Homo sapiens: one gene and its partners. The protein of the gene in region 1 purifies or fractionates together with the protein of each later gene. This does not show direct contact. Each region holds a gene or a part of one and is shown on either strand. Other genes may lie near its edges. The genes, in order: MTHFD2, MCCC1, MACROD1, ACADL, SCFD1 and PREP.

The links.
Region 2: the proteins of MTHFD2 (region 1) and MCCC1 fractionate together in Homo sapiens (co-fractionation; one large-scale study listed by BioGRID). This does not show direct contact.
Region 3: the proteins of MTHFD2 (region 1) and MACROD1 purify together in Homo sapiens (affinity purification with mass spectrometry; one large-scale study listed by BioGRID and IntAct). This does not show direct contact.
Region 4: the proteins of MTHFD2 (region 1) and ACADL purify together in Homo sapiens (affinity purification with mass spectrometry; 2 studies listed by BioGRID and IntAct, with this or other methods). This does not show direct contact.
Region 5: the proteins of MTHFD2 (region 1) and SCFD1 fractionate together in Homo sapiens (co-fractionation; one large-scale study listed by BioGRID). This does not show direct contact.
Region 6: the proteins of MTHFD2 (region 1) and PREP fractionate together in Homo sapiens (co-fractionation; one large-scale study listed by BioGRID). This does not show direct contact.

Annotation. Positions count from the first base shown.
Region 1 is NC_000002.12:74,208,615-74,212,114, forward strand, and holds part of MTHFD2 (bifunctional methylenetetrahydrofolate dehydrogenase/cyclohydrolase, mitochondrial isoform A precursor), read left to right. Parts: coding exon 1-107; intron 108-1,327; coding exon 1,328-1,435; intron 1,436-2,584; coding exon 2,585-2,677; intron 2,678-3,126; coding exon 3,127-3,252; intron 3,253-3,500. UniProt on the Homo sapiens protein: Although its dehydrogenase activity is NAD-specific, it can also utilize NADP at a reduced efficiency.
Region 2 is NC_000003.12:183,092,997-183,096,496, reverse strand, and holds part of MCCC1 (methylcrotonoyl-CoA carboxylase subunit alpha, mitochondrial isoform 1 precursor), read left to right. Parts: intron 1-1,888; exon of another isoform or gene 1,889-1,891; coding exon 1,892-1,938; intron 1,939-3,500.
Region 3 is NC_000011.10:64,009,114-64,012,613, reverse strand, and holds part of MACROD1 (ADP-ribose glycohydrolase MACROD1), read left to right. Parts: intron 1-3,500. UniProt on the Homo sapiens protein: Removes ADP-ribose from aspartate and glutamate residues in proteins bearing a single ADP-ribose moiety. Inactive towards proteins bearing poly-ADP-ribose.
Region 4 is NC_000002.12:210,190,948-210,194,447, forward strand, and holds part of ACADL (long-chain specific acyl-CoA dehydrogenase, mitochondrial precursor), read right to left. Parts: intron 1,944-3,500; coding exon 1,857-1,943; intron 1-1,856. UniProt on the Homo sapiens protein: Long-chain specific acyl-CoA dehydrogenase is one of the acyl-CoA dehydrogenases that catalyze the first step of mitochondrial fatty acid beta-oxidation, an aerobic process breaking down fatty acids into acetyl-CoA and allowing the production of energy from fats.
Region 5 is NC_000014.9:30,670,819-30,674,318, forward strand, and holds part of SCFD1 (sec1 family domain-containing protein 1), read left to right. Parts: intron 1-2,438; coding exon 2,439-2,529; intron 2,530-3,105; coding exon 3,106-3,179; intron 3,180-3,500. UniProt on the Homo sapiens protein: Plays a role in SNARE-pin assembly and Golgi-to-ER retrograde transport via its interaction with COG4. Involved in vesicular transport between the endoplasmic reticulum and the Golgi.
Region 6 is NC_000006.12:105,372,083-105,375,582, reverse strand, and holds part of PREP (prolyl endopeptidase), read left to right. Parts: intron 1-2,004; coding exon 2,005-2,214; intron 2,215-3,500. UniProt on the Homo sapiens protein: Cleaves peptide bonds on the C-terminal side of prolyl residues within peptides that are up to approximately 30 amino acids long.

The DNA of each region.
Region 1 (3,500 bases):
GGATGTTGATGGCTTTCATGTAATTAATGTAGGACGAATGTGTTTGGATCAGTATTCCATGTTACCGGCTACTCCATGGGGTGTGTGGGAAATAATCAAGCGAACTGGTAGGTATATCCCAGAATTGCATGTCTGTGTTAATATTATAAAAGTAGTACTGGCAAATGGTAAAAACTCATACAGTCCCAAAGAGTGGAAACCCTACTGCATATCCTCTAGTCTTACTCCCCAAAGTTTACCTCTCTTAACAGTTTTTTTTTTGTTTTTTGTTTTTTTTGAGACAGGGTCTTGCTCTGTCACCCAGGCTGGAGTGCAGTGGCGCGATCTTGGCTCACTGCAGCCTCTGCCTCCTGAGTTCAAGCGATTCTCATGCCTCAGCCTCCTGAGTAGCTGGGATTACAGGCACGTGCCACCATGCCCAGCTAATTTTTTTATTTCTAGTAGAGACAGGTTTCACCATATTGACCAAGCTGGTCTCGAACTAGGCCTCAGGTGATCCGCCCCCTCAGCCTCCCAGAGTGCTGGGATTATAGGCATGAGCCATCGTGCCTGCCCTTAACAGTTGCCTATGACAGTTTTTGCTTTTTAATCCAGAAGTCTCAGTGAAGGAAATTTTCTATTTTTCTTTTTCTTTTTTTTTGTTTTTGAGACGGAGTCTTGCTCTGTTGCCCAGGCTGGAGTGCAGTGGCGTGATCTCGACTCACTGCAAGCTCCACCTCCTGAGTTCATGCCATTCTCCTGCCTCAGCCTCCTGAGTAGCTGGGACTACAGGTGCCCACCACCATGCCTGGCTAACTTTTTTTTTTTCTCGTATTTTTAGTACAGACGGGGTTTCACCGTGTTAGCCAGGATGGTCTTGATCTCCTGACCTTGTGATCCACCTGCCTTGGCCTCCCAAAGTGCTGGGATTACAGGTGTGAGCCATCGCGCGTGGCCTCTATTTTTCTTTTTAATTTTTTCTTTAAGAGTCAGAGGTTTCATCATGCTGCCCAGGCTGGTCTCAAACTCCTGGCCTCAAGCAATTCTCCTACCTTAGCCTCCCTGGCCTCAAGCAATCCTCCCTCCTGCTGGGATTACAGGTGTGAGCCACCGCCCCAGCCCTCAGTGAAGGAAATTTAAGATTTGATAGTGGTGACAGTGCACATTCCTGTAACATTTTGTAGCCTGTAGTATGCTTTCTCCTGTTTTCTTTTAGCCCTTATTATGTGTAGCAAGTTACAGCTCCAGTTGACTGATGAGGCAAAATTGGGTTCATGTTCTAGGCCATCTGACTTTGTTTTCCTTTGGACTGGCACTACTTTTAATGTCAATACATATATTTTTATAGGCATTCCAACCCTAGGGAAGAATGTGGTTGTGGCTGGAAGGTCAAAAAACGTTGGAATGCCCATTGCAATGTTACTGCACACAGATGGGGCGCATGAACGTCCCGGAGGTAAGGAAATTGCTTTCAGGGAACACTGTCCTTTTTTCCCCATGTAAGAACTTTCAGAAGCCATCCTGTGCATGTTTGGAAGTATTAACTCTGTTATACTTTGTATTTGTTGAAATTTTGTTAACAGACAATTCAGGGAGTAACCTTTGTAGAGAAGCTGCACCCAGTGTCACCTGAGTTTCTTTATTATTCATTTATCATGTAACTAGCTTCAGAAATAAATTTAAGTTTTGAGTATAAGCATGGTTGTAGGCAATTAGAAAATTTCAGCTATAGCTTTGATAGCTGGAGCTAAGGAGCAATTCTTATTCAAAGATACTGTGTCATTTAGTGGAAAAAAATCTTTAGCCGTTGCAAAGGATTGGATTGGTATGACTGTAATGTGTCCTGTCAGGTTCTGTTAATTGGTTCTAAGGTAAAGCCTCGTCAATCAGTTATCACATAATTATTGTAATAATGACCTTACATGATTATATCAGAAATAAAGGCAAAACTATATACTTTCAACTATCTTTCAACATACTTAAAACAACCTTGAGTAATTTTAGTGATATTTTGCTTAGAAAAGGTAAAATTCTTGAAAGGCTTTAAAAATAGGATGAATAAATTTAATTATATGACTCAAAACAGTCGAGCTGGGACCAATGGGTTAAAGCTATATGATATTAGGTATTAATTTTAAAAAAGTAAATGACAATTAGCTGTTCAGAAAACATGGCACAAGCCATTAAGTCAGTTTTTTTTTTTTTTTTTCCTGGAGATGGAGTCTTGCCCTGTTGCCCAGGCTAGTGCAGTGGCACAATCTTGGCTCACTGCAACCTCCACCTTCCAGGTTCAAGTGATTCTCATGCCTCAGCCTCCCAAGTAGCTGGGATTACAGGCATGCGCCACCACGCCCAGCTAATTTTTGTATTTTTAGTAGAGACGGGGTTTCACCATGTTGGCCAGGTTGGCCTCGAACTCCTGACCTGGTGATCTGCCCACCTCGGCCTCCCAAAGTGCTGGGATTACAGGCGTGAGCCACTGCACCTGGCCGTAAGTCAATTATTTTTCAGAGATGTTGAGTTTCTACAATGACTTGACTAGTTGAGACCTAATCCAATCCCAGCTTTGTGTCAGAAATCAAGACATCTATTTTTTTCTTTCTAGGTGATGCCACTGTTACAATATCTCATCGATATACTCCCAAAGAGCAGTTGAAGAAACATACAATTCTTGCAGATATTGTAATATCTGCTGCAGGTAAGAACACAAGGGGGATGGAGGGAAGGACTTCACCTCAGAAGAGGAGGTTGTACCCCTCATCTTAGAATTCGCCTGCCTAGCTGCTATTCATCATTCCCCTTGTAATGATTCTTTGAGCTGCCTACAAAGATGAGGATAGAGTTGTGATTGGAATACCGGTTTCTGGCAGTCCATTATAGTCTAGATGGGTGAATGTTATTCCTAAAGCTTCAAAATATTTATATTAATATTTACTGTATAAAGTTTAAATGGTTCCTTTTGTTTCCTGTCAGGAGCCAAAATAAAAAAATAATAAAAGTAAATAGTTCCTTAGTTAATATTTTTAACAGGTTTTAATAAAACATGTTGATTAGTTCTTCAGGGTCTCTTGAAATTGAAGTTAGACAAGAATCTGACAGGTAGACTGTTTTCAGTACTAAGTTGATCTTTCCTTTCTCCATTTCCAGGTATTCCAAATCTGATCACAGCAGATATGATCAAGGAAGGAGCAGCAGTCATTGATGTGGGAATAAATAGAGTTCACGATCCTGTAACTGCCAAACCCAAGTTGGTTGGAGATGTGGATTTTGAAGGTAAATGGTGAAATTTTATTTTTAAAAATGAAATCAATAAATACTACCTTTCATGGACATTTAGGATAGATTATTTACTTTTTTTTTTTTTTTTTTTTTTGAGATGGGAGTCTCACTCTGTTGCCCAGGCTGGAGTGCAGTGGCGCGATCTCGGCTCACTGCAACCTCTGCCTCCTGGGTTCAAGCTATTCTTCTGCCTCAGCCTCCCGAGTAGCTGGGACTCCCAAAGTGTTGGGATTATAGGTGTG
Region 2 (3,500 bases), on another chromosome or scaffold:
CGCTGTGCTTTTATCTTGTGCTTTGTGAATAATCTAAAATGGTTAGTTAGTCCTTTATAACCACATCTTCCAGGTATAGACAAAAAGATAGGTGGAATTGCTTCTGTAATTTGTTTGTTTCCCTGCATATGCTTTTTATTTATTTATTTATTTTTTTTTTTGAGATGGAGTCTCACTCTGTCACCCAGGCTGGAATGTAGTGGCACGATCTTGGCTCACTGCAACCTCCACCTCCCAAGTTCAAGTGATACTCCTGCCTCAGCCTCCCAAGTAGCTGAGATTACAGGTGCGCACCACCACACCTGGCTAATTTTTGTATTGTTAGTAGAGATGGGGTTTCACCATGTTGGCCAGGCTGGTCTCGAACTCCTGACCTCAGGTAATCCCCCCACCTCAGCCTCTCAAATTGCTAGGATTACAGGCGTGAGCCACTGCACCCAGCCCACTTATCCTCTTTAGCTGAAACTTAATAGACGTTATACTTTTTTGTTCCTAAAGTGAATCTGGCCTGTTTTCTGTCAGCTCTTGGTTACTTTATTTTATACACAGGTATCACGAAACTTAAAAATTGTTGAGACTTCTACCTCATTAAAATACCTCAAGTCATTTTGTCTCCCCATTTCTCCATTTTTTTAAATACAAGGACTTGGAATAGAATTGTATAGTACTTTTAAATCTGAGAGGTACCTTCAAGATCACCTCTTATAGTCTCATCTCGTGTGTGAGAACACTGAAGCCCAAGCTATTAAATCTTGCATCCTCAACTGGGATGATACCACCGCTAAAGGGTGGAAATTGATTCTTAGGAGAGCCAGGAAATCTTAGATTTTGTCATGGTTTACGGCTTTCCAAAGCTCAACCTTACCCCACCCTTCCTACAAGGAATAAAATCTTTTAAAAGTTTTCTCATTAGGAGAGTAATAATGAAAAAAAAGTTGGAGAAACACTGATGTAAAGTGACTCGACCCTGGGCAAGCTGGTCATTGGAGGGACTCGGATGAGAATGCAGCTTTTCTGGTCCCACAGCCAACATTCTTTCTGTTGCCCCTGTTTAACTTCCGTTTATTTCTCTGGTCTTACTTTTTAAACATGTCTCATGTTTAAACTTGATTGGTATTTTTCAAACTGTAGATTGACCAGCATATTTTAATAAAATAGGATACAACTGAAAGAACCAAAAGAGTTTTGTTCTTTTTGTTTTTGTTTTTTTTTTTGAGACGGAGTCTCGCTCTGTCACCCAGGCTGGAGTGCAGTGGCCCAGTCTCGGCTCACTGCAAGCTCTGCCTCCTGGGTTCACGCCATTCTCCTGCCTCAGCCTCCCGAGTAGCTGGGACTACAGGTGCCCGCCATGACGCCCGGCTAATTTTTTGTGTTTTCAGTAGAGACAGGGTTTCACCGTGTTAGCCAGGATGGCCTCAATCTCCTGACCTCATGATCTGCTTGCCTCGGCTTCCCAAAGTGCTGGGATTACAGGTGTGAGCCACCGTGCCTGGCCAGGGCAGAATGAGTCATTTTTAACAAAACATCTGTTTTCATTAAGTGTGTGTCCTGGGTAGTTTGTATTGTGAGTTGTAGCCAAAAAGGTTTCAAAAAAGCTAAACTAGATGATGTTGGTATACCTTGGTTGTTTAATCATCTCTGACTGTGGTCTTATGCCAGCCTCAGGAACAAGCAGGCTAGGTGACTCATTCAAGGACAGGTAGTACGAGGGAAAACAGCCAGAACTCTAACTCTTGAGTTCTAGATTAGTTTTCTACCCACTAAGAAAGTCTTACTAAAGCACTGTTAGTTGGCTTAAGGTTTCATGTTTTAAGAAACTGAAATTCTTTTGAAAGAACAATTGTGTTGCCTATTCTGTTTAATTGTAATTCCTTTTGGATTTATGTTATAGGACATGGGTGTGGAGGCAAAGAACCATGAAGTACACAACAGCCACAGGTACTGACAGACTTTGTTGTTCTATTTGATTTTGCTTCAGACTGGAAGTGTTTAAGAAAGGGAAATGTTTAATCCCTTAATATATGCATAATAGAATTAGTTATCATAAATTTTGGATTTTCACGATAATTTTCTAGGAAGTGTTAAGTCATGGTTTTCACCTCTTTTGTATCAAATCTCTCTTGCTGTTAAGTCTAAAATACAGAGGGCAGCCGGGCGCAGTGGCTCATGCCTGTATCCCAGCACTTTGGGAGGCTGAGGTGGGTGGATCACCTGAGGTCAGGAGTTCGAGACCAGCCTGGACAACATGGCAAAACCCTGTGTCTACTAAAAAATACAAAAATTAGCTGGGCGTGGTGGCGGGTGCCTGTAATCCCAGATGCTTGGGAGGCTGAGGCAGGAGAATTGCTTGAACCCAGGAGGCGCAGGTTGCAATGAGCCAAGATCTCGCCACTGCACTCCAGCCTGGGCGACAGAGCAAGACTTCGTCTCAAAAAAAAAAAAAAAAAAGTAAAAATAAATAAATAAAATACAGAGGGCAATAATGGAGAACATTTTATATTCGTTTGTTCTTTCTGTCCATTTGACCCTCTTAGTGTATTGGATTGGAAAATCATAACTACGATGGTCTAAAGCAGTTCTTTGAAAAAGCTATTTTAAGTAGCAAAACCTTTTTTTCCAAATAAAATTTAACATGGAATTCCCAACTATGAAACATATAAAAGTGTAATAAAGTATAACTTCTAGCTGATTGGATATAGCCCTCTACCTACTGTGCTCTCCTTCCCCTGCCCACACTCATACATATGTCATCCATCAGCCCCTGTGACAACTCTTGGGCTCCATAGAGCCCCATCGAAAAACACTTTTAAATTAGGTGCAACCTTTTTTTTTTTAAAAGGAGAAATAACTTTATTATGTTGAGCCTATGGATTCTATTGAAGAAATAACTTTATTATGAACTGTCAAAGAACATTTATTTCACGTGTGATATTAGAAGTACATTTTATATATGCAGTAGCTTGTCATTATGGTGCCATGCCAGTAGACTGGTACAAGAGTCACTTGTGTTGCAAGAGAACCACACACACCTATGTACATAGGGATAGAGGCAGAGGAGCAGAGTGACTGAAAGCTTAAATTCTGGAGTGACGCAGATCTAGGTTGAAGTCCCAGATTGTTTCTTTAGCTGTGTAATTTTGGGAAAATAATAGCTCTTTCAGCATTAGTTTCTTCATCTTTAAAATTGAGATAACAATGATAGTATCTATTTCATTAGGATTATTGTGAAAATTTAAGTCGATGTTGAGTCTTTAGCACAGGACCTGAGGCACAGAAAGTGCTTATTAAAGATTAGTTAGTATTGGCCGGGTGTGGTGGCTCACACCTGTAATCCCAGCACTTCGGGAGGCCAAGGCAGGTGGATCACCTGAGGTCAGGAGTTCGAGACCAGCCTGGCCAATGTGGTGAAACCCCGTCTCTACTAAAAATACAAAAATTAGCCAGGCGTGGTGGCAGGCACCTGTAATTTCAGCTACTCAGGAGGCTGAAGCAGTAGAATT
Region 3 (3,500 bases), on another chromosome or scaffold:
GCCTAGCCAACATGGTGAAGCCCCGTCTCTACTAAAAATACAAAAATTAGCTGGGCATGGTGGTACACACCTGTAATCCCAGCTACTCAGAAGGCTGAGGCAGGAGAATTGCTTGAACCCCATAGGCAGGGGCTGCAGTGAGCCAAGATCACACCACTGCACTCCAGCTTGGGTAACACAGCGAGACCCTGTCTCAAAAAAAAAAAAAGTTTATTGAATGAATGAACTACAGGTAAAGGTGGAGATGACCCTACACATTAAGCAACGGACTTACCCAAGGGCAGCTGGTGGAAACCAAAGATGTTTTGGCAAATCCAGGAGTGGCTCACAGATGGCCTGTGACCTCACTCTAGGAAGTGGAGGGGCCCTGCCCTGGCCACTCAGAGGCATGGCAGAGGTCTCTCTGGTTCTCCTTCCAGCATTTAGGGGTGCGGAGCGGCTGGCACAGGCCTCTCACACAACCTGACTGATGGAGAGATGGACGGGGCGGGTGCCCCTGGAGGAAGTGGGCCCGGAGTCCAACCTTTTAACATGGGCTGAGATTTATGGAGCCGCCGCCAGCACTTGCTGGGACTGTCACTCTGCTAATGTGATTGGAACACAGTGGAGGTGGTGGGGAGGGGGCTGTGGTAGGGACGATGCTGGGGCTGGAATGGAGCCCAGCCTGGTCCCCGGAGGTGCTCTGCCCTCCCCTATACCCCTGCTCCTCCCACCATCCTTTGAGTTCATCCAGTCCTAATCGCCTACCTGCCCAAGTTAGACCCCATCTGACTCTGCCCAGACACACCCATCTTCCCGTGGGGTCCCTGGACATCCCTCCTACAGGAGTTCAGGCCTCTACCCGCGCCCCTCCCATGACCAGCCACCCATTGTTCGAACACGCACAAGGGCCATCCTGCCTGCCCTGGCCACTCTGCCCAGAACCCTGATGCACTGCCCTGCTCCATGTCTTCGTCCCGCAGCCCTGATTCCCTGCTTGCGTTTTGTGTTTGTTCTTCATTGCCTGCCTCCCCACCGGAATGGACTCCCCCGAGGGCAGGGTTATGGGAGATTCTGAGCTCCTAGAAGAGCTTCCTGCTTTGAAGTAAATAATTAACATCTGTGGTGCAGTGAGTGGCACCCTCTGTGTGCCCTGGGAGCCAGGGACACAGCTCTCAGTCTGGCACCCACATCCCATCCCCTCACCCTGGGGACTGCCAGTCTGCCAGTCCCTCAATGGAGAGGGGCAGCAGGCAACACCCTGGCCAACACCCCAATCAGCATCCTAGCCAACAGCCCAACCAACATGCCAGCCAACACCCCAACAACATGCCAGCCAACACCCCAACCAGCATGCCAGCCAACACCCCAAACAATACACCAGCAAACACCCCAACCAACACCCCAACCAACACCCCAGCCAACACGCCAGCCAACACCCCAACAAATACCCCAACCAACATGCCAACCAGCATCCTAACACCCCAACCAACTCGTGCCAACCAATATGCCAGCCAACACCCCAACCAACATGCCAACCAACACCCCAGCCAACACTTCAACACCCCAACCAACATGCCAGCCAACACGCCAGCCAACATCCCAACCAACACCTCAACCAACACACCAGCCAACATCCCAACCAACACCCCAACCAACACATGCCAACCAACATGCCAGCCAACACCCCAACCAACATGCCAGCCAACACCCTGGCCAACACCCCAACCAACATGCCAGCCAACACCCCAAACAATACACCAGCAAACACCCCAACCAACACTCCAGCCAACATGCAAGCCAACACCCCAACCAATACCCCAACCAACATGCCAGCCAACATCCCAAACACCCCAACCAACTCGTGCCAACCAATATGCCAGCCAACACCCCAACCAACATGCCAACCAACACCCCAACCAACATGCCAGCCAACATGCCAGCCAACACCCCAACCAACACACCAGCCAGCACCCCAACTAACACCCCAAACAACACTCCAACCAACACCCCAGCCAACACCTCAAGCAACATGGCAGCCAACACCCCAATCAACATGCCAGCCAACATCCCAACCAACACATGCCAACCAACATGCCAGCCAACGCCCCAACCAACACACCAACCAACACCCCAACCAACACCCCAGCCAACACCCCAACCAACATGCCAGCCAGCACCCCAACCAACACCCCAACATGTCAGCCAACATCTCAACCAACACTCCAGCCAACACCCCGGTCAACACCCCAGCCAACATCCCAGCCAACACTCCAACCAACACTCCAACCAACACCCCAACCAACACCCCAAACAACATACCAGCCAACACTCCAACACCCCAACATGCCAGCCAACACCCCAACCAACATGCCAGCCAGCACCCCAACCAACACCCCAGCTAACACTCTGGGCAACACCCCAACCAATATGCCAACCAACACCCCAGCCAACACACCAACCAACACCCCAGGCAACACTTCAACCAACACCCCAACCAACCCCCCAACCAACACCCCAGCCAACCCCCCAACCAACACCCCAACCAACACCCTGGGCAACACCCCAGCCAACACCCCAGCCAACACCCCAACCAACAACCCAGCCAACACCCCAACCAACACCCCAACCAATACCCCAGGCAACAACCCAACCAACATCCCAGCCAACACCCCGGCCAACACCCTGGTGTGGGTAGTGGCGTGGAGTTCCTGCCAGGAGGGGCCGGCGCAACTGGGGCTCAGAAGATGGGGCTGGGACTGGCCTGCAGGGCTTTGGGGCCCGAGCCCACTGTTTTTACGGCAAATGTGCGGTGATTTAGAGCAGAAGAGGGCTGCAGTCTCAGGGGAGCAGAGAAGGGAGTCTCCCGGGCACCCCCAATGCAGTGAGAGCCCCCAGGGGCTGCTGGGGCTAAAGGGACTTAACCTGGAGGGCACAGGACTCCTGTGCCTGCCTCACTCTGGGCCTGGACCCCCACCCACCACACCCTGGGGCCGAACTAGATGGTGCTGGCAATGCAGTGAGTCCTGGGGAAGTCCCCCTACTCCCTTACTACCCATTCTTCCCTGGAGCTCTCTCTGAGTTGAGGGAGCTATGCCAAATGCTGGGACTCAGGGCTTGGCTCTGCCTTCAGGGAGACCCAGTTTGGTAGGAGGCTTCCCAGCAGAGGGAGCATTTGACTTGGGTCCCGAAGGCTAAATAGGAGTTCTGCAGGTAGAGCAGGATGGACGGGCCCCCCAGGGGGAAGGCCTGTGTCTGCTTCAGGAAGGCTTGATGGGCTTGGGGCAGCTGCCAGCCTTCCCGACAGACCCTTTGGCCTGGTGTCTGCCAGGCCCCCTCCTCTCTCCCACCTCCCTCCTGGAAAGCTTTTACTGGCTCAATAAAAACATTTTTTAAAACACTCTCCTATTGTATGGTAAGAAGGGAGGCAGGTCCTAAATCAGGATGGGAATCGACAGAGCCCTGACGCCCGTGTCTCTCCTGTTTATTAGGACTGAAATGTTTACTCGGAGATAAGGAGC
Region 4 (3,500 bases), about 140 Mb from region 1:
ACTCTGTCGCCCAGGCTGGAGTGCAGTGGCGCAATCTCGACTCACTGCAACCTCCGCCTCTCGGGTTAGAGCGATTCTCATGCCTCTGGAGTAGCTGGGACTACAGGCACCTGCAACCACGCCTAGCTAATTTTTTTGTATTTTTAGTAGAAATGGTGTTTCGCCATTTTGCCCAGGCTGGTCTTGAACTCTTGACCTCAGGTGATCCACCCGCTTTGGCATCCCAAAGTGCTGGGATTACAGGAGTGAGCCACCGCACGTGGCCTCAGTGGCTTTTTTGATATTAGGCGATATATGGGAAGAGAAATAGCAGTCTAGTTTAAAAATTGATACAATCTTTGAACTAACAAACTGGCCAAGAAAGGTGATTATTGTTTCTTAAAGAGAATATAAGTCTCTCAAACTGAAACCAGAGATTTCAAATAAGCCATCAATCTACATTGTTTGCTTGGTACCAACTTGAAGGAGTTGACTCCGAGAAAACAGAGACCAAGGCTTATGCCACGCTCTAATCTTAAGCCATTTAGATGATTGCCTTCTCCCCACCTAATAGGCCTTTCTTAAATGTGAACTAAACCACACAAACATTGAGCCACTACATAGCTTCTGTTCTTAATGTAATTTTAGTAAAATATTTTTTCTAAGGACTATAAGCATATTAAATGTTTCCAATTATACTTACCAAAAAGATAAATTTGAAATCATTAGGCTGCCAGTTTGAATGTAGGTTTCATAATTTTTCCCTTTAGATACTTTATATTAAGATAATCTTAAAACATTTTTAGAAGCCTATAGCATTCTTACTCTCAGATTCAGAACAAACTGAACTTTTCTGTATAAATAAAAAATTTCCTTGGGAAAATTTTCTAAACCAAAATCATTGCTAAATAATCAGAAAAATATATTTTCTAGGGTGATGAGGAAAAAAAGCTATGGGGAGACTTCTGAGGCAAAAGACTGTTAGGAGAAAAGGAAATTCTGGAGATTGAGGAAGAAATATGAATGGGGACACTGCCTATTTACAAATTAGTACTGCTTCAAACTGATAAGAATATTCATATATGATAAAAAGATATATTTGATTTCTTTCAATTTGAAGGAAATAAATCTATTTAGAAAGAAGATTTTTAATTTTTTTAGAACAAAACAAATAATCAGATATTTAAGATATGTGACAACTTAGATCCTTTTCATATGCCAGTTAATTTTTCTGTATTGCTTTTTTTTTTTTTTGGTTTTAAAAAAAAAGTAGTATTTGGCCGGATGCAGTGGCTCACGCCTGTAATCCCAGTACTTTGGGATGCCAAGGCAGGCAGATCACTTGAGGCCAGGGGTTTGAGACCAGCCTGGCCAACATGGCAAAACCACACCTCTACTAAAAATACAAAAAAATTAGCCAGGTGTCATGGCACGCACCTGTTAATTCCAGCTACTCTGGAGACTGAGGCACAAGAATTATTTGAACCTGGAAGGTGGAGGTTGCAGTGAACCCAGATCATGCCACTGTACTCCAACCTGGGTGACAGAGCGAGACTGTCTCAAAATAAAATAAAAAATAAAAAAATTAAAAAATTTTTGAAAATACTATTTGTCCTTCTACATAAGGATTCAAATAAAGCCAAGGATCAAGCTTTTGTTTATTGGTCTCTTTACTTTATTTAAGAAAAATAAAATCCTAGTAGGGAGTTGATAAAAAAAAAGCTGTTTCCATTTGCTTGAATACATTTTGTCTGTATTCAGCTGAAAAATTCAAAAGATTGCACACCTCCTTTCCCTCTACATTTGATGTACAAAGTAAAGAAATTTTCCTTTTTCTTCACATCATAAAGAAGAGTGTATCAGAAAACTATACTTACTTTGCAATTGGGTACTCCCACATGTATCCCCAACCTCCATGGAGCTGTACACAGTCGTAAGCTACACTATTTTGTAACTCAGATGCCCTAAATGACCAAAATAAAAGGCAGAAAAGAAATGTTTGAAATGGATTTTCATGAGGTGCTTCAAAACCAGAAAACTAATTATTTACAATTGTTTAAATGTGCACATTTATTAAGCAATTAGAACGGCATATTAGCTAAGCAAAGAAGATAAAAATTACATATGAAATATATTTCAAGAGAATTTTCATATAAGAGTACCTTTTTCATTAATTATATTTCTTGCTAGGTTTTTGTTAGGCTAGAAACAAAAGGTAGAAAACTCAGATGATTAGATTTTGGCTATTTGAGGCTAGAAAAACATGCAGTAAAGACTTGAATATGTTCTAATTTATTTGGATTCTCTATATGATCTAAATTACTCAGCCACCTAGTTCTTTTTGCCCTTGTAATATGCATTTTTTCTCCAATGATGTCACTTTCTACTTGAAGATCACGATTCTGAATTTCAGTATAAAAAAGCAATTTTTTAGGGTTCTGACTTTTCAGAAATAAATTGAAGATAAAAGTGAAAACCTAAGAGGGCAGACTAACAAAGTATATGCTATCATATAGGAAACATTAGAAAATTATATAGAGATTATTATTCCTGAAGTGTATGTATTAGTATTATATATAATGTTTGTATACATAAACATGCAGTGCTTGAGAAAAATTCTTTTCTGATAATATCACAATTCTATCATTAAAATTCATGATAGAGATTTTATTCACCTTAACATAAAAATACATTAGTTCAAAATTCTTTTCTACTTATTTTTCTTTTCTTTCTTTCTTTTTGTTTGTGAGTCTGTTTTAGTGATGGAGTCTCACCCACTCTAGGGCCTAGGTTGGGATACAGTGGCACAATCATAGCTCATTACAGTCTTGAACTCCAGGGCTCAAAGGATCCTCTCACCTCAGCTTCTCAAGTAGGAGTTACTACAGTGGCAAGCTACAGCACCCCACTACTTATTTTTCAATAGTGGGAAGCATAAAGCAAAAATAAGGGTAGATACTTCTTTTTATTTAAAATAATTTAAAACTCAGACCATACGACAGGTGAGGATATTTCTAAGCAATATATTAACAATATAATTATTAATAGACAAGACTTTGGGGACAATAATATTTGGATTTCTCTAATTTTTTATATTTGGCAAGTATTTTAGTGAAATATTTACTGGGCTATAACTAGTTGCCTCCTGTGTTTCAGTGTGAAATATGAGCATGTGTATAAACCTGAGGTTTTCAAATAACAAGGTCAATGGCTATCCAAACTTCTCTTTTTCCAAAAATATGTAAATTTTTTTTACACTTTTTGCCACTAGTCAAAGAACTTCTTGTAAATGTAAATATAAAAAGTCTCCTCAAAAGTGCAAGTTTCTGAAAAGTAATTCCACATTATTTTTCAACCTGGCAATTTTGTTATTATGGGATCATTATATAAAGCACAAAATATTTCCCCTGTTCTACCTGTGATTGAACTGAACACAAGTTAATGAATAATGACAGGAATTTATTCTAAGTTACTCTTGGGCTAATGATATGGGAGAATGTTTGTTTTTAAAAAGAGGAAAC
Region 5 (3,500 bases), on another chromosome or scaffold:
AAATTTATTCAAAGTACATTAGAAATAATGAGTGATAAAACTGCATTAATTTGCCATGTGATTTACTGTGGGCAGATATACATATCCCATGTGATGCTATGCCCCCTTAAAGTTTAGGGTACTTCATGGGCTCAGTTACTGCTATAAAAGTTATCTAGTGATCATTATGGCTAGAGCCATCATTCTAAACAAACAAAAATATTATTCCTCAGAGAAAAAGAATACTGTTCATCAACAATTATGAAAATATGATTTTTAAAAAATATTTCAAAATGTGTGTGTGTCCTTGATATAGCTGTTCTTTTTGGGCTTATATTTATTGTTTAAAGAGAAGTCGAATATAGACTTGGTTCAACATGCTGGGTTTTTAATATGCTTTATCTTTTTTTTACTTACAACTTTTTTTTAAGCTGGAAAATCAAATCGCCATAACAAAGATTTGACTTTCTCTGCAGAGAAAAGTCACTGTCTTTCTCTTTCTCACTATGGCAGTTTTAGGTACTATTTTAATTAATTTTAATAAATTTGATTTTAAATAATACTCTTCCCTTTGGAATTCCATAATCTACGTTTCCCTCCAGAATGGTGAAGTACAAGAAATTACTTTTATTAGAGAGGCATTATTTATAGAGAATACAGAATATTTTGAAGTTGGCATTCCCTAATAGAGAAAAGCTTAAGAAAAAAATCTCTGTATTCAAATATGGAAATTTTGAATTTTTTTAGAACATATGTTTAAGAACAATTTAAGAGGTCAGTTGAATAGTAAGAATTTTAACCTCCTATTCATTAAGTAGGAATAGCTCTTTTGCTCTGCATCTTACATACAATAGTAACATGGGCACAAAGACACTTGGAGATAGCATAAACAAGTGACCTAAACCTCTCTGAGCTTCAGTTTCCTCATCAGTAAAATAGGGAGATAATAATTCTACCTATTGCCCTATTTCAGAAGGTTGTTGAGAAGATTGAGATAATGAATTTAAAGGAGTAATTTGCCCAAGTCATCCAGCTTTCGTTGGTAAAGCCAGGGATGAAACCCAGGTCTTGCAGACCATAAAGCACCCAGTCTTAACATTGAATAGTTAAGTTATGATAGTTACCTCAACAGATTCATCAGGATTAAATGAGGTTGCAGTGAGCCGAGATCACGCCATTGCACTCCAGCCTGGGCAACAAGAGCAAAACTCCATCTTAAAAAAAAAAAAAAGAAAGAAAAGATAAATTCTTAGCATGGTGTTTGATGTATAGTAAAATCACTTAATAAATGTGAGCAATTATTCTCTGTTAACTCTGAGACCTAAAGATATCAGAGATTTTGAGGATTATCCAGTTCAACCCACACATTTTACAGATAAAGCTAGGGCCCTGAGAGGGTAAGAGCTTGCCTGTAAAGGAAGTTTCCATTATAATTAGATGGAACAAGGGTTTCTGACTCCCCAGTGCAATGCTGAGGCCTCAGTGCTATTTTTTGCCAACATAGACTCAACTGGAGCTGGAGTAAATGCCTGTGCTTGTGAGGTAAAATTGGACTGTGTTCCTCAGAATCCTTTCTGAGCTCCTGTCTTTTCTGCTAGTCTCCATTGGATAAAATGTGCTTGTTATTAGAGAGGTATTTTCAGATGTCAGAGCTGAGGAAGGGGGGAAAGGTTTTTGTTCACTGTTAATGAGACATGACCTTTTCTTTCTTAAAGGAGAAAAGGCTTCTGGCCTCCCCCTAGGCTGTAGATGAAAAATACTCATTTTAAGAAACATTTAATGATCAACATGTATTCACCTAGAGTTTGTCAAGATTAGTACAGTGTTTTCTACCTGAGTGCTCATGATTGCAGATCACTTCTGCCTAAAGTCTATGTAAGTTACTGCTAAACCACAATGTCCTGGTAGAAGACATCAGGTATTAGGCCACCAAAACTGTGGCCCAAGTGCTATTTTTACCAGTAGTGTTCTGGGATATTATGAGTTCTGAGTTACAAGAATTTTTTCACAGTTACTTGCAGGTGATATTTTTAAATGCTGTCTTTGTAGTTGCATGGACCCTTTGACATGACGTGTTAATTTGGATGGGAATATTTAATTGATATTTGATATAACATGACTTGTCTTCCATTGATTTTCAGTCATGTAAATATTTTACTTTTTCTTCTAAAAACGTATAAGTGAAGAGAATGTATGATACTGTTAATGAAAAATAGAAATGAAATTTAAATTTTAGATGTATATTATATGCATTTTAAAGAAATAGTATTATATAGATATCAGAAAGATATGTAGTTGTATTTGTGCTGAATCTTTTCTGCCTTTGTTATATATAACATATATTCAAATCCAAATAAGTATATTTAAAATAATAAATGTTCATTGTATATATTTTAGAATTTACACAAAAATTGGTCTTTTAATGTCATCCTCATAGTTCTTGTGCAATACTGTTTTAGTCCATTCCCAGAAGTTGCAGAATCAGTTCAGCAAGAACTAGAATCTTACAGAGCACAGGAAGATGAGGTCAAACGACTTAAAAGCATTATGGTAAGATTCTATTTGCTTTCTAAGAATTATAGGAAAGAGGAGGATTATCTGTTAGATAAAGAGATTTGGGTTTTTTTCCTTATAAAAATTGAAGGCCATTTAATGCTTTTATAACAAAAATATTTTCAACTTGCGTAAGTGATCAAAAAGAAATCTAAATATTGAGAAGAGAAAAAATAATATATGATTTGAAAAAATATATAATGTAGCATCATTTTAGAGATGTATGTTCCAATGCTGCTCATTCTACCATACTTCGATGTAACTTCAGATTTCAGCTCTACTGTTTATTGCTGTGTGACCTATGGCACGTCTCTGGGCCTGTCTCCTTATCCAAAAATGCCAGCTGATCATTTAGACATCTAACCATTAGACTGGCGATTACTAGAACTTTTATGTAACATTAAAATATATATGCTTGCACCTCAGAGGAGGAGAATTACTATTCTAGGTGACTTAAAAATCTTACGGTATATCAATAATCTTAGGATATTTGCTCCAATCTTAGGATGTGTTGATTTTTATGCTTGTGCCTGGGATTTTTGAGTAGCTATTGAGACCTTTTTTCTTTACAAGGGACTAGAAGGGGAAGATGAAGGAGCCATAAGTATGCTTTCTGACAATACCGCTAAGCTAACATCAGCTGTTAGGTAAGTGAGCAGTATATCCTCTTTGAAGTCTTTCTGTTGATAGGATTTTTTTTTTATTTAACTAAAAAATTGTTAATGTTTTTAACTAGTAGGAAACTGTAGGCAATAGCAAATATAACTTTGAATTTAAAGAACTAAATTGTATTTAGCTAAATGTTTAAGCCGATTTTAGTTCCCTCTTAGATATAGGAGATTATTCATTCTTTCACCAGTTAGAACTGTGTAATAGGGGTAATTTTATGAGGAAAATACTATTAATGATAAAGTAGGGCAAGCGATTATTAATTTTATTATAGATACTGTTTTCTTAACTAAAAGTTA
Region 6 (3,500 bases), on another chromosome or scaffold:
TGGAGGTTTAAAGACTAAGTTTGTCCACAGTTGCTGTACATCTCCTACTTAACTCTGCCCCTAAGATAACCTCCTCCGTAGGCCATAGAGAAGATTATCCAAGGTTTCTGCAGTAAGCAGAGTTCTAGGGTAAGGAACTAAGTTATTCTCCAGTTCTGTATTTTAATAATTGTAAACTCTACAATGATAATGATGTTATAGATGACGTTGGCTCAGCATTTCTCCTGTAGTACCTTCTGGTTTTATAGAAAAAACCATATGATTAGTTATGGCCCTCTAGAATTGAGAAATTGAGACATTGAAGTCCTCTGTAATCAATAAGATGGGAGTTATAGAGCCCCGTTCCATCAGACCTGTGCAAAGACCCTTTTTTATACAAACACTTCTAACCATGATCCAGTCATTCGGTGGTCCACCTTCCCCTCCCTCTGAATAGGCTGTGTATATAAACAATGATCCTTTATCGAACCAGTATCGAAAATAAGACATCACCAGCTCAGATTCTTCCATGAATCTGAGCTTGTAGTTTTCAGTGAATTTAATACACTGGTTCTGTTGAAGTAACATATCCCATATAGGAATTCATTTAGTTTCCACAAGGATCTATCTTGCAGCCCATCCAGAGGGACAGGGTCTTAACTCCCACCCCGATAATGCATTCTTCTAGTGACTTCTTTATGGAATGTTTGCTATGGACAAAGCCTTGATGGGCGAGAAGCTAAATTAGGCATGAGACCTGCCTCAAACAGTCATTGAGTTTTCTAAGAGTGGTATTATAGGGAAGTTATCACAAAAGGAGTAAACATTCAGATTATTTTTGTAGTATATGATTTTTAAACATACTTTTCAAATCAAAATGTTTTATTTAAATTTTTCTGAAAATTTTCTGATATATATATATATATATATATATATATATATATATATATATATATATATATATATATATAAACAATTCAAACACTCCAGTGCTATGTAGAATAAAAGGTGAATATGTTTCTTTTTCCTATCACTTTCTAGACTCTTTTCTGCATTTACATACATATGAGCCTAGATACTTTATAGGACCTACAATGGTTAATGAGTAGGTTCTGTGAAATTTTAAACAAATGAAATTCCACGTAAAAGAATAGGAAACCTCTAATAATAGTTGAGCTTCTTAAAATTTTCATTACCCAATAACGTTTAGCAAACAGCCTAAGAGGAAATCTCTGGTGTCAGAGTCTCCAATAGGAGGTGTTGTATTGAATGCTTTACATACTTCATAATTAAAAAAGCTAATATGAAACACAAGTATTTGCCAGGAAACATTCCATAGTGATTAGAACATTCTGCCAGGGCCCTAAAGGACTGTACATGGCACGACAGTCTATAGACATGTTGCTTTTCCTTTCACAATTTCTTGTGGAATGTGCACTCCGGGCGCCTTCACTGCAAACCCTCAGGCTTTATTTACCTAGGCTTGTAATGGTCAGACAGTGTGGACATTGCACAGGTAATGCTTCAAAAATGAGGCTGTAACAAGGGATTTTAGATAATTTGGAATCAATCTCCCAAATTACCTAATGACTACAATTTAGTTCTATTATATGGTATGTGTCATAATTCAGTCATTACTCTAAAAGCAGTTTCCTTTTTCTCCTTATTCCCTTTAGAGTATAAATGAAATATGACAGAAGTCCCAGATGAGCTCTGCTTTTAACTGAACTGCCTATTGCATTATAAAAATTTCAAAATGAAAGCATTTTAGTAGGCATATAATCTAATATTTCATTTTATAGACAAATTAAGACCTGGAGAGGTTAGGAAGCTTGTCTAAGGTTATAAGGGTAATTCCTGTAAAACTTGGGCTGAGCCCCCGGGATTCCTCACTACCAGATTCCTATTCCTTTTATTGCCACATTCTACCTCCGTGTTATGAAAGAGAGCTTTGTTAGATGGCATAAAGGACCGTGGAGTTGTGTTCCGTGTTTGTCACTGGATGATTTCTCCTGTGTCCCATAGGTTATGCGTTCAGCGAAGATGGTGAATATTTTGCCTATGGTCTGAGTGCCAGTGGCTCAGACTGGGTGACAATCAAGTTCATGAAAGTTGATGGTGCCAAAGAGCTTCCAGATGTGCTTGAAAGAGTCAAGTTCAGCTGTATGGCCTGGACCCATGATGGGAAGGGAATGTTCTACAACTCATACCCTCAACAGGATGGAAAAAGTGATGGTGAGTGAAGACTTCAGATGAAGCACATTTTTCACAAAATGAAGTGTGACTTCAAGTGACTGAAAAGAGATGCTGAACCCTACATAGAGGTTGTGTGGTCCAGAACCATGTTTCCTCAAAGGATGTTGTATCAGTTGGCTTTGCTGTGTAATAGACCCCACCAAAATGTAGTAGCTTAGAATAATAAACATTTGTTTTTGCTATGAGCCTATGGGTTGGCCAGGTAGTTCTTCTGGCCTTGGCTGAGTTCTAACATGTATCTGTGGTCAGCTGCAGGTTAGTTGGTTCATCTTGGCTTGGCTCTTTTACATTTCTGGGCCCTCAGCTGGGACGACTAGCAGACTAGCCTGGGCTTGCTCACATGGCAACTCAGTAGAATTGCAAGACGGGGAGCTGAATGACACAGCCTTCTTAATGCCTAGGCTTGCTCCTGGCACGTCAGATTTGCTGCATTCTGTTGGCTAAAGCAAGCCAGAGGGCCAGCCCCTTTTCAATGGGTGGAGAAATAGATACAGGGAACTGCGGAAAAATGAGATCATTATTACAATCAATCAGTCCCTTATAGATGTGTTATATCTCCTAAGGAGATTATGGAGAAGGTGAATTTTTAAACCGAACCAAGCTATTTGATTATGTTGAGTGATTATAAAACTTTACTGCTACAGTAATCGCATATTCTCCTCTGATCAGAAGTTATAGGTCACCTGTTGGTTGCCATTTATCTTGATACTTTTCTCCTTGTTACTTTCTGGACACACCTTTATTGTTCTTCTCTTTAATTGCACAAAGATCCTGTTGTGTTCAAGGGGTTCCTCCCTCTTTGCTCCTTCACTTCTAAATTTTCCCAGGCAGGAAGGGCTATGTACCTTGTACCTTACTGGTACAATGTGTCATTTTCTTCCTTTTGCTACCCCACATTTCAACGTGGTATGTAGCATTTTCTTGTTATGTTGGTTGGTCTTTACAGGTAAGTTTTACAATCCCTGTGTTAGAGATTAGGAGCTTGGGCACAGAGGCTCAGTAATTTGCTGGAGGGCTGGGATCTGGCAAGAAGCACAGCTACTCCAGTGCTTTCTGCTGTACCTGTTGTCCCCTTATCATGACTTGTTGTATCTTTGTCATCTTTAAATATCCTTGCTTTCTTTTCTGTTTTTTTTTTTCCCCCACAATTGAATTGAGAATAAGGCTACAGTGTTTTTCATCTCTTGGCTATGTTTAGCTTTTTCTGCCTTTTGATTAGGCTACATCAAGACCTTTTTTATAAATTCGCCAATGAATTACAAGAT